3 linked regions of the Homo sapiens genome follow. The protein of the gene in region 2 purifies or fractionates together with the protein of the main gene of each other region. This does not show direct contact. Each region holds a gene or a part of one and is shown on either strand. Other genes may lie near its edges.

Region 1 (3,749 bases), on a different chromosome or scaffold from region 2:
AGTGATAGCTGAAGGGACAAGGGATAGGCTAGGTCTTAGAGGACCATTTACAGGCATTTGTGGGGAGCTGCTGTGTGCTCAGCTGTATATTTTCTGGATAGCAATACAGTCTACCCAGAAAGACCAGGCAACAGTGATGGGGCAGGCTGTAGTACATGAGTTTAGAATAAATTATAATTGATTTCCAGCCTACTTCCACAAAAGAATCAGAAGAAATAGCCAACAAAAGTGTCTCCCCAAGTGATTGTTACTCTCAGGAAGATTGAAAACCATGCAGAGGAAGGGGGCAAGCACTCAGGTGAGACAGATGGTGACTTTATCTAAAGAGTAAATTTAGCTTGGAGATTCCTGGCAGCCAAAGCAGAAAGAGAAGTAAGACGAGCTGTATAACTGGCATTTTCTGACAAAATGAAGCACCTGATTTATCAAAGGGAGACACTTTTTTTGTCACAAAAATCCAAAAGTAATTTTCAAAGGCTTTTCACTGAAGAGCCATTAATGTCATTAATGTAAGAGGCAGAGTGTTACTGGGTTTTCAGATTTTTCTTGGGACTCCTTCTGATCCTGAACAAGCATGGAGGGTACAGCAGATATCATAGAGTGTCCGACATGACCCCGCCTGGCTTTAACATGACACGGTGGACTGTCTTGACCTCTGGCTGCCTTTGTCCACTGTGCCATTGGCATTGACCTATGTGAATGTGGGGCTGAGCTGCTTGGCTCACTTAGCTAGTCCAGGTTGCTGGGTGTAGCAGGTGTGCCACTTTCACATGCTGTGGGAAGGAAGAACTGACTTTGCCCCAGAAACTGTCATGGGCACACTTGATTTGTTAGTTTCCTTGGGGGATAAAGAATCCACAGCACAGCACCTGCTGAGTGGTTGTTGGCTCAGAGAAAGCAATTGAAGCCTCATGCTGATAGCAAGAGATGTATCAGATACAGGAGGATGCCTCAATCAGCATTCTCAGCTGCAGTCAAGAAAAATGAATTGTGGCCTATGTAAACAGAAAAGGTTGGCGGGCATGGCCAGTGCATGGCCCAATCACACCACTAGCCTGGGCTGGTGGTGACAGTTCTGTTGCCATCTCCATCACTGGACACCATGCCAGTCCTTCTCATGTCAGAACTACATACTGCTGCCATCCAACACCAAGATGTGTGCTTTCCATTTGCTGTGAGGCCTTGAGCCAGGGCCGGGGCTGCGAGGGTAGCTGGGGTGGAGGGAACACTCAGCACCTAGAAAACGAGTGCTTGGCGTTCTGCTTGGTGGGAAGCTGGGAATGGCACCCACCGAGACTCATAAGGGACAAGAGTTGGAAAACAGGGAAGAATGAATGATAGGAGGCCAGAAAAAACAGTCGAGCTTTGGGAGTTGAGGCAGGCTTATTGAAAAGGAGCATTTCACTCCTTTTGGCGAGATTTCTCAGAGCTGGGGCACTGGCTCATCAGCCTAGGGCTGTAGGCGGAGGTTTGCCTGGGGCAAGCGGCGGGATCTGCGGGCAAGGGGGCCATTGTGTTGCTCCTGCCAGCAGTCCCAGCTCCCATTTTTCTCCCTGCTCAGTCCGACACCCACCCGTCCGACTTTCTTAGGCAACCCTAGAAGGCTCCTGGAATCCACTTCCGCTCTCCACGGCCTGGGGCTTGCCCCACCTCCCGGCATGCCCCGGGCTGCCCTGCAGGACGCCCCCCGCGCAGTGCATGGTGGGGTAGCCAGCCGGCCACCTTTGGGCCATGGCAGCCGAAGGTGCTGTGTGCGGCTTCGTCTATCTGGAGGGCACTGCCTGGGCGGTCCCTGAGGACACCGAACCCTTGGCATCCTGCACATTGGGTACTCCGGAAAGACCGGGAAAGGGACTGGGGCGTGGAGGCGATCTGGGGGCGGGTCAAACGCTGGCCCCGCCCCTCTGCAGGCCCCGTCCCTCAGTGTCCATACGTGCTTGTGCTAGGGCGCCTGCGCCCTCACCTGGATTCCCTTCACTGGAGGGAATGATGTCCCAGGTTTTGGTCACTGGCCTCTCTCTGGCTATCCCTGGGCCTTCAAGAGCATTGGCACGGTGCCATGTGAAAACTGAGTTGCAACCTGGTGACACTGCAGCTCCAAAGTGCTCCACAGAAATGATTTGGGGACTGGCTTTCTGGGAAGGGGCCCAGGCTGGGGGGCTCAGGAAGCAGGCCCTGATTGTCCCTCTCTCTTCACAGGACATGGCAACCACAGAGAGAGCAGCCCTTTTCTTTCCCCCTTGGAGGCTTCCAGAGGAATTGACTACTATGACAGGAACCTGGCACTGTTTGAGGTAGCTGAGGAGCCATTTTGGGCCACAGGTTTGGCACACAGAGGCTTTAGCTAAGCAGGCAGGCTGGACACGTGGGCCTCCTCTGTCTTGCTCTTCCTCTCATCTCCTCTTGTGTTCCTGGTTCTCATGGCAGCCGGGCTGCAGTTCCCTTGGCCCTTTCAACTGAAACTGCCTTTCCAGAGGCCACTCACAATCCCACCCCCATTGCTACCTCCAGGGTGGTTCACCTCTGACTTCCTTACAACCCCTCAGCAAGGAAACGCCCGCTTAGGATTTCCCAACTCAGGATTTCTCCTCTTCCTTCCACTCCTGGTTCTTCTCCAAGTCCATGGTTCTTCGCTCTCCCATGGATTCTTCCTTGTCTTTCTTGGTTGACCCTTCCAGCTCTGTCCCTCTCTAGTTCCCTGAGTCCTGGTCCATTTGCAGCTTTAGGGGATACGTCTCTGGAAAGATTCCCAAATATCTGCCTCTGTACTTGAGTTTTATCTTCTTCAGACTCAAGCTGAGCAGTGAGATCTGGATTTAAGACGTAGTTTAAGCTCCTAAACTCTGACCCATGCATTCAGCCACTGCATGGCTGAGTAATGGAGACTCCTTAATCTGCCTTTTTTTTCTCTTTCTTCATTTTGAGATGGAGTCTCACTCTGTCGCCCCAGGCTGGAGTGCAGTGACGCGATCTCAGCTCATTGCAACCTCTGCCTTCCAAGCTCAGCGATTCTCCTGCCTCAGCCTCCCGAGTAGCTGGGATTACAGGTGCCCACCACATGCCTGGCTAATTTTTGTGTTTTTAGAGACGGGGTTTCACCGTGTTGGCCAGGCTGGTCTTGAACTCCTGACTTCTAGTGATCCTCCTGCTCAGCCTCTCAAAGTGCTGGAATTACTGCTGTGAGCCACCACATCTGGCCGAGGCTCCTTAATCTCCACATGCCCCCAAGGGCCCTCGTCTTCCTTTCTCACACCAAAGCAACTTCTCCCTGTGTGTAGGTCAGAAAGGAGCTGACAGAGAGGGAAAAGCTAAATGTGGGCAGGAGGCAGGTAGAAGCACAGCCTCGAGAAGGCTGCAGGAGCAGGGATCATCGCCTAGACCCCGGTGGGGCTGGGGGACCTGAGCTCTGGGAGGCCTCCTGACCTGGGAAAGCAGCAAGGTTCTGCGGTGAAGGCCTTGGCCCAGCCCCGCCTGAGGATGGGCTGGAGGATCAGGATCCCATCTCCGCGATTGATGTGGGTACTTGCAGGACTGGGGTCAGGGGAAGACCATCCAGGGAGATCAGGGTTTGGGCAGACAAGGGAGACTTCACTTGTCCCAGACATCACTCTTTTGCCCTCTTTGGTTCCCTGAGGTGACTAGAGTGGCTTTTTTGTGGGGAGGGTAGGCGTGAGTCCTAGAGGTGCAGCCATAGCCAGGAGGTGGCTGGGCAGAGCAGGCAGGATGAAGTATGCCATTGCCCCCCTGCC
Region 2 (3,749 bases):
CTCCCAGCAAAGTGCCCAGCGCCCTGGCTGGGGACTCAGGAGGCCCAAGGGAACAAAGGGGCCCATCAAGGGTCTGCAGGTTCCACCGAGAGGGTCACCAGAGAGTGTCAAGAAGAAGGCATGCACCTCTCCCCACCACCACCATATAACAATGGCCACCGTGACCTTTGCCCTCCTGACCACCTTCAGCAGAGCCTCTTCCCAGATGCCCTCCGCAGCCCCGAGCCCCAGCGTAGTTTCCCCACCCATCCCAGGCCCCGTGGGCAAGCACTTTGTCAAATTCTCTCTTCCGCGCCTCTTTAAAGGAGCTATGGGCCATGGTGAGGCATGCATCGTTTTGGAGTCAGGCCGACTCCAGGTCTGAATCCTAACTCTGCTGCTCCTGACCTGAGTGGCCTTGGGAAGCCTATTTCACCTCTCTTTGCCTCAGTTTCCTCATCTGTAAAATAGGAAGGTGTTTCTCCTACTGCATATGATTGATGATTTTGTGAGAAAAAGCCTGTGGTAGAAGAGACTGGCACAGAGGAGACGCTTCACCACTGTCACCCACCCCCCACCTTGGTCTCTCTGAGCAAAATTCACAAACTGGTACTTCCAATTTTCAAAGTTTATTCCGAAATGCCTCATATCCGGTGTGGTTCTATAACCTGCATTAAAGCACAGTTCTATCTCATGGCTGATTTTCACATTCTTCAAGTTTTTAATGTCTTCTCTAATATCTCCTTTAGGTCAATTTCCTACACAAATTAAATGCCTAAAGAAGCCAGGCAGGTGATGTGTATGAGTCAGATGGCCAGGTAGGGAGTGGTGGGGACTGTGGCAAAGTAGACGTCACACGCCTCATCTAAAAAGTCAACATCTTCTCAGCACTAACCAATGATTACCGTCTGGGCTTAGTATTGGCAGAACTTCCAAATTTTTAAGATGAGACAGAAACCTGAATTTTTTTTTTTTTTTTTTGTAAAACTTTCTAATTTCTTGGGGGAAATCTTTTGTCAAAAAGGATTATGTAAAAGTTCCTGACTGGGCACAGTGGCTCACATCTATAATCCCAGCATTTTGGGAGGCTGAGGTAAAACAATCACTTGAGCCCAGGAGTTTTAGGCCAGCCTGGGCAACATAGTGGGACCCCCATCTCTACAAAAAATAAAAAAATTGGCCAGATGTGGTGGTGCACACCTTTAACCCCAGTTACTTGGGAGGCTGAGGTGGGAGGATCACTTGAGCCTGGGAGGTCGAGGCTGTAGTGAGCCACGATTGCACCACTGCACTCCAGCCTGGGCAACAAAGCGAGACCCTGTCTCAAATGAAACTCCCCAAATTCCCACATTGTAGAGATACACAATGAAATATTTACAATGGAATGAAATCTCTGGATTTGCTTCCGCATATCTGAAGGTGGGAAGAGAAGCAAGCGAGGGAGGGTATAGGATGAAGCAAGATAGGCCTGAGTTGATCATTGTTGGAGCAGAGTGATGGGTGTGTGTTGTTGATGGTACAATTCTCTCTGCATGTTTGAATTTCCTATAATAACAAGTTAAAATAAACACTGTGCAGGCCAAACAGAAAACACCCACTAGCCAAATTCAGCCTACTGGTCACTGCTTTCTGGTCTGTATTGTTGAGTTATGTGACCACACAGCACCCTGGGAAACCCATCCTAGCTCAGTGTACACACCTGGCACCGTGAAAGCCCCAGGCAATCTGAGATCTGATCCAGATAGTCTCTGCTCCCCATGGATTTGAGGGGGTTGTCTTTTCTTGCCCCTCAGGTCAGGTCTGAACTCTGCCATTAAATACTTTGGTGACCTCAAGCAAATCACAGCTTCTCTGTGTCTCTGACTTCTCTTTCTTGTCCCTGTCTACACCAGCGGTGTGGGGGAAGGAGAGTCAGCCTGATCCAGTTATGGGCCAGCATGGGCTAGGATTGGGAAGCCTGTTGTCCCTGAAACGCGTCTGTGGAAGATTTTTCCCCTTGCCTGTTTGTGGCAGCCTGTGATTCCCTCCAGAGCCTTTCATTCTATCATGAGAGACAACGCTGAAAATACACACCCTCCTGGGAAGCATGCGGCCTCCACTCAAGCGTATTCACACCACAGCACCTAGAATTGAAGGCAGAGAGTGATGGACATGGGCTCGCAAGTCCACACAAGGCTTAACTAAGGAAGCCAGGAGGGAGAAAGACCAAGTACAGGTCATGGGGGCAGGACAGGGCAGGCTAATCTCCAAGGCAACAAGTTCCCCAAAAAAGTTCTGTGAGGTTTCAAAATGTCTTAAATGGCACCCCCAATTTCTGAAAAACAAGATTATTTTATTATTTATTTTATTTTATTTTATTTTGAGATGGGTTCTCACTCTGTTGCCCAGGCTGGAGTGTAGTGAGGAGTGTGATCATGGATCACTGCAGCCTCCACCTCCTGTGCTCAAGTAATCCTCCCACCTCAGCCTCCCGAGCAGCTGAGACCAAATAAGTGCAGGCCACCAAGCCATGCCCCACTAATTTTCAAATTTTTTTGAAAAGACCAGGTCTCGATATGTTGCCAGGGCTGGTCTTGAACACCTGGGCTCAAGTGATCCTTCTGTCTTGGCCTCCCAAAGGGCCGGGATTTCAGACATGAACCACTATGCCTGTCCTGAAAAATGAGATTTTAAATTGAATATCATCCAACAAACAAGGTTATTCATTGCAGCATTATAACACAAAGGATTATAAAGCAAAGCATTGGAAGGAGCCTAAAAGTCTTCCAACAGGGAAAAGGTGAAATAAATTAGGGTATTTCCATATAATAGAATAAGTTCTGTGTAGCTTTCAAAAGAAAAGAAAAAGAAGACGGAAAAGAAAAAAGAAAAAGAGGAAAACTCTGAGCACCGATATGGAATAATGCCATTTGCATAAAAAGTGGGTAGGGGAAGGCTATGGACTTGCATTTATTTATTTATAGATAAAATATCTCTGGAAGGATTTACAAGAAACTTATAATACTGGTTATCAGTGGGCGACCCCCCAGAAACATCCACATTCGAATCCCCGGAAACTGTGAATATGTTGTAGAAGGGACTTTGCAGATGTGATTAAATGCATAATTTTGGCATGGGGAGATTGTCTTGGATTATACAGGTGGTCCCAATGTAATCACAAAGGTCCCATAAAAGGGAGCAGGAGGATCAAAGTCAGAGGTAAGAGATGTGACAACAGAAGCAAGAAGCTGGTTTTGGGGGTTTTGTTTGTTTGTTTGTTGTGTTTTTTTTTTTTTTTTTTGAGACAGGATCTCATTCTGTCACCCAGGCTGGAGTGCAGTGGCATGATCTCAACTCACTGCAGCCTCCACTTCCCCAGGCTCACGCGATCCTCCCACCTCAGCCTCCCAGGTAGCTGGGACTACAGGCATGCACCACCATGCCTGGCTAATTTTTGTCTATTCTTTGTAGAGACACAGTCTCAGTTTGTTGCCCAGGCTGGTCTCCAACTCCTGGGCTAAAGAGATCCTCCTGCCTCAGCTTCCCAAAGTGCTGGGATTACAGGCATGAGCCACTGCACCCAGACAAAGCTGCTGGTTTTAAAGATGGCAGGAGGGGTCATAAGCCAAGGCAGGCAGGCAGCCTCTAGAAGCTGGAAAAGCAAAAGAAACAGATTCTCCCCTGGAGCCTCCGGAAGGAGACAACCTTGCTCACACGATGATTTTAACATCTGCCCTCCAGAATCATTAAGAAAGCAAATTTGTTGTTTTAAGATTGGCCAGCCAAGGCTG
Region 3 (3,749 bases), on a different chromosome or scaffold from region 2:
CTTTGGCCTTTTTATGGGTTATTCGTGTGATAAACAGTCACCCTAAATGATATTTTTTATATTATTGTGTAAATAAGACCAAATACCATCCAGCCCAGTATTTTCTCTCTGGCAATGGAACCAAGGGATATTTGGTGGGATATTTTTATAGTTTCCAGTAGAGTTTAAAGATAATATCTCAGGGCTGGGCGCAGTAGCTCACGCCTGTAATGCCAGCACTTTGAGAAGCCAAGGTGGGTGGATCACCTCAGGTCAGGAGTTTGAGACCAGCCTGACCAACATGGTAAAATGCCCTCTCTACTAAAAATACAAAAATTAGCTGGGCATGGTGATGTGTGCCTGTAGTTCCAGCTACTTGGGAGGCTGCAACAAGAGAATCGCTTGAATCCAGGAGGCGGAGGTTGCAGTGAGCCGAGATCACGCCACTGGACTCCAGCCTGGGCGACAGAGCGAGACTCTGTCTCAGAAAATAAATAAATAAAAATAATGATAATATCTCAGAAATTTTAAAGATTCCCTCACCCTTATTTATTTTTAGGTGAAAGAGTCCTAATATTCCTAAAATTAACCCTCTATTTTTTCCAGAAAAGAGAAATTTAGGCTCCTAGGAAGAGTTGAGGTTGGTAGAGCAAGTGTCTGTCTCTAGAGGCAGTCATTTTCTGTTTTTTGTTTTGTTTTGTTTTGTTTTTTGTCATCTTCTTTAATCTGGTGCTTTCCTATTGCAGTGATTTGTCCAAGTGCCGGGAGTGGAGGCCATCCTGACAACAGCTCTATGATTTTCTATGCCAATGACACAGGAGCCCAACAGTTTGAAAAGTGGTGGGATAAGTCCAGGACAGTCCCCTTTTATCTTGTAGGGCTCCTCCTCCCACTGCTCAATTTCAAGTCTCCTTCATTTTTTTCAAAATTTAATATCCTAGGTAAGTAGTAGCACTGAATTATGGAGACTTTGTGTAATAGAATACGTGGTGGAGTCTAGGGAAATATGGTCTGATTGGGGAGTTACCTTCCAAGCCTGTTCATCTGTGTTTAATTTGTTCATTCGTTTTTGTTTTGTTCTTTCTTTCTTTCTTTTTTTTTTTTTTTTTTTTGAGACGGAGTTTCACTGTTGTTGCCCAGGGTGGAGTGCAATGGCTCAATCTTGGCTCACTGCAACCTCTGCTTCCGGGGTTCAAGCAATTCTTGGCCTCAGCCTCCCAAGTAGCTGGGATTACAGGTATGCGCCACCACACCCAGCTAATTTTGTATTTTTGGTAGAGGTGGGATTTCACCATGTTGTCCAGGCTGGTCTCAAACCCCTGACCTTAGGTGATCGACCTGCCTCAGCCTCCCAAAGTGCTGGGATTACAGGTGTGAGCCAGCACGCCCGGCAATTTGTTCATTCTTATGATAACCTGATTTTTTCTATTTTTTTTTATGGAGTTTGGCATGGAGAAAAGTGTAGATGACCATTTTTGGTTTTGTTGTGTGTGTGTGTTTTTTTTTTTTGAGACATGAATTATTTGGTTTCTCATTCTAAACTTACTGAACAATTCTTCCTCATTTTCTCTGAGGATACAACTAGACGAAATACACGAAAATTTCAGGAGGAGAGATCCAAATTGGATATTATAGGAATTCTTGATTCTAACGGTTGGAAACAGAACTTACTAAGGAAAGTTATAGAATGTTTTTTCCTACAGTCTCTAAGAGTATTGTGCAGAATTGTCACCTGACTTTGAACCTGGGAAATCATTCTCTATCTCAGGCTTCGTAGGTTTATTTTGCTTTTGCTCTCTTCCTCAGTGCTTTTTTTTCTTAGAACGCTATTGCCTTCTTCAAGGAACAGACCTCTTTCTGTGAGCCCTGCTTTTCAGAAACCACTAAACGAATGTTTTTACTCCACTTAAGATGGCAAAAGGGGCCAGGTGTGGTGGCTCACGCCTGTATTCCCAACACTTTGGGAGGCTGACGCAGGTGGATCACGAGGTCAGGAGTTCAAGACCAGCTTGGCCAAGATGGTGAAACCCTGTCTCTACTAAAAATAGAAAAATTAGCCGGGCGTGGTGGCTGGTGCCTGTAATCCCAGCTACTTGGGAGGCTGAGGCAGAGAATTGCTTGAACCTGGGAGGTGGAGGTTGCAGTGAGCCAAGATTATGCCACTGCACTCCAGCCTGGGTGACAGAATGAGACTCTGTCTTAAAAAAAAAAAAAAAAAAAAGATGGCAAAAGGAACCCCCCCAGTGAAAGTTCAGATCTGGCTAACCAAGGACAAGGATATCATTCATAAGGAATCGATAACTCCACATAAACCATACGATTTCACTTCCTCCCTGTGGATGTGATCTCTGGCAGGCAGTCTAGAGCATAAAATAGATAGGCTGGGTGCGGTGGCTCACGCCTGTAATCCCAGCACTTTGGGAAGCTGAGGCAGGCAGATCACCTGAGGTCAGGAGTTCGAGACCAAACTGACCAACATGGAGCAACCCTGTCTCTACTAAAAATACAAAATTAGCCAGGCATGGTGGCGCATGCCTGTAATCCCAGCTACTCGGGAGGCTGAGGCAGGAGAACTGCTTAAACCCAGGAGGCGGAGGTTGCAGTGAGCCGAGATCATGCCATTGCACTCCAGCGTGGGCAACAAGAGCGAAAACTCTGTCTCAACAAATAAATAAATAAATAACCCAGCATATCAAGGAACAAGGCAGTGGCTTCTAGGTTTCCAGAAGACCAAAGGAAAAGTTAAAATTATTTCTCTTTGCCTGTCTGCCTCAGGAACAGGATTCACTGTAAGCTGCCATAGACACACAGAAGATGAAGAGTTGTGGTTATATAAGCTCTGGCGTCCTGTTTTCATCCTTTCTGAATCAGCTAATCTCCAAACCCACAGTACTGCTTATATCGCTCATTCGTGGTTTCCTGATTTGCTTGCCAACTTTTCTGTGAAACAGATCTTTTAAAAGAATATAAACTTATAGAAGGATTTGCTCAATTGGGCACAACAATCACCAGACTTCCAACCAGGTTGATTGTTCATTCTTCAGCTCCTTAAGGATATTCTGCTTTTGTTCTTTTCCTTGGTACTTTCCCTTTCTCTTAAAACCATAGCTTCATTAGAGGAATTAGCATCTAAGGCCTTCCTGAATTTTCTGACTCTACTCCATAATGACTAGACTTAATTTCTTAAAAGGAATAATCTTCTACCTTCTACACTACTAAAATATTCTGAATGCCCATTTTACCTTGTATATAATACCTGAGAATGGAGTCTGGAATCTCTGTCTAGCAAGTAGTGCTACCCAGTCAAAACCTCATCTAGATACTAGATCAGGATTGTTCATGTATTTGGCTTCTCACCTTTCTCAAATATGCTTTTGATCCACATTCACTGCTTTTCTTTCTTTACCCTCTTACCATCTCACATTAAATACTGTGACAGACTGACTCTAACACTTCCAATTCAAAGAATAAAAGTAAGTTTCATGTTGTTTTTTTCAATCCTATGTAATCCTATAATTTTGTAATGGACTCTCTGCTTGTATCTTCTGCTTAAACTCAACTCATAAGTAAATGAAGCAGTTTTGCATTCAGCATTGTATGAGCTACCTTCATCTGATTCTTCTTTTCTTATTCTTTTTTTTTTCCTTTGAGATGGAGTCTCGCTCTGTTGCCCAGGCTGGAGTGCAGTGGTGCAATCTTGGCTCACTGCAAACTCTGCTTCCCGAATTCAAGTGATTCTCCTGTCTCAGCCTCCCGAGTAGCTGTGATTA

What was found.
Region 1: the proteins of LGALS9C (region 2) and SLC12A4 purify together in Homo sapiens (affinity purification with mass spectrometry; 3 studies listed by BioGRID and IntAct, with this or other methods). This does not show direct contact.
Region 3: the proteins of LGALS9C (region 2) and SLC38A9 purify together in Homo sapiens (affinity purification with mass spectrometry; 3 studies listed by BioGRID and IntAct, with this or other methods). This does not show direct contact.

What each region holds. Positions count from the first base shown.
Region 1 is NC_000016.10:67,962,010-67,965,758, reverse strand, and holds part of SLC12A4 (solute carrier family 12 member 4), read left to right. Parts: intron 1-1,706; exon of another isoform or gene 1,707-1,731; coding exon of another isoform or gene 1,732-1,828; intron 1,829-2,199; coding exon 2,200-2,294; intron 2,295-3,749. UniProt on the Homo sapiens protein: Mediates electroneutral potassium-chloride cotransport when activated by cell swelling. May contribute to cell volume homeostasis in single cells. May be involved in the regulation of basolateral Cl(-) exit in NaCl absorbing epithelia.
Region 2 is NC_000017.11:18,479,719-18,483,467, reverse strand, and holds part of LGALS9C (galectin-9C), read right to left. Parts: intron 1-3,749. UniProt on the Homo sapiens protein: Binds galactosides.
Region 3 is NC_000005.10:55,649,700-55,653,448, reverse strand, and holds part of SLC38A9 (neutral amino acid transporter 9), read left to right. Parts: intron 1-725; coding exon 726-920; intron 921-3,749.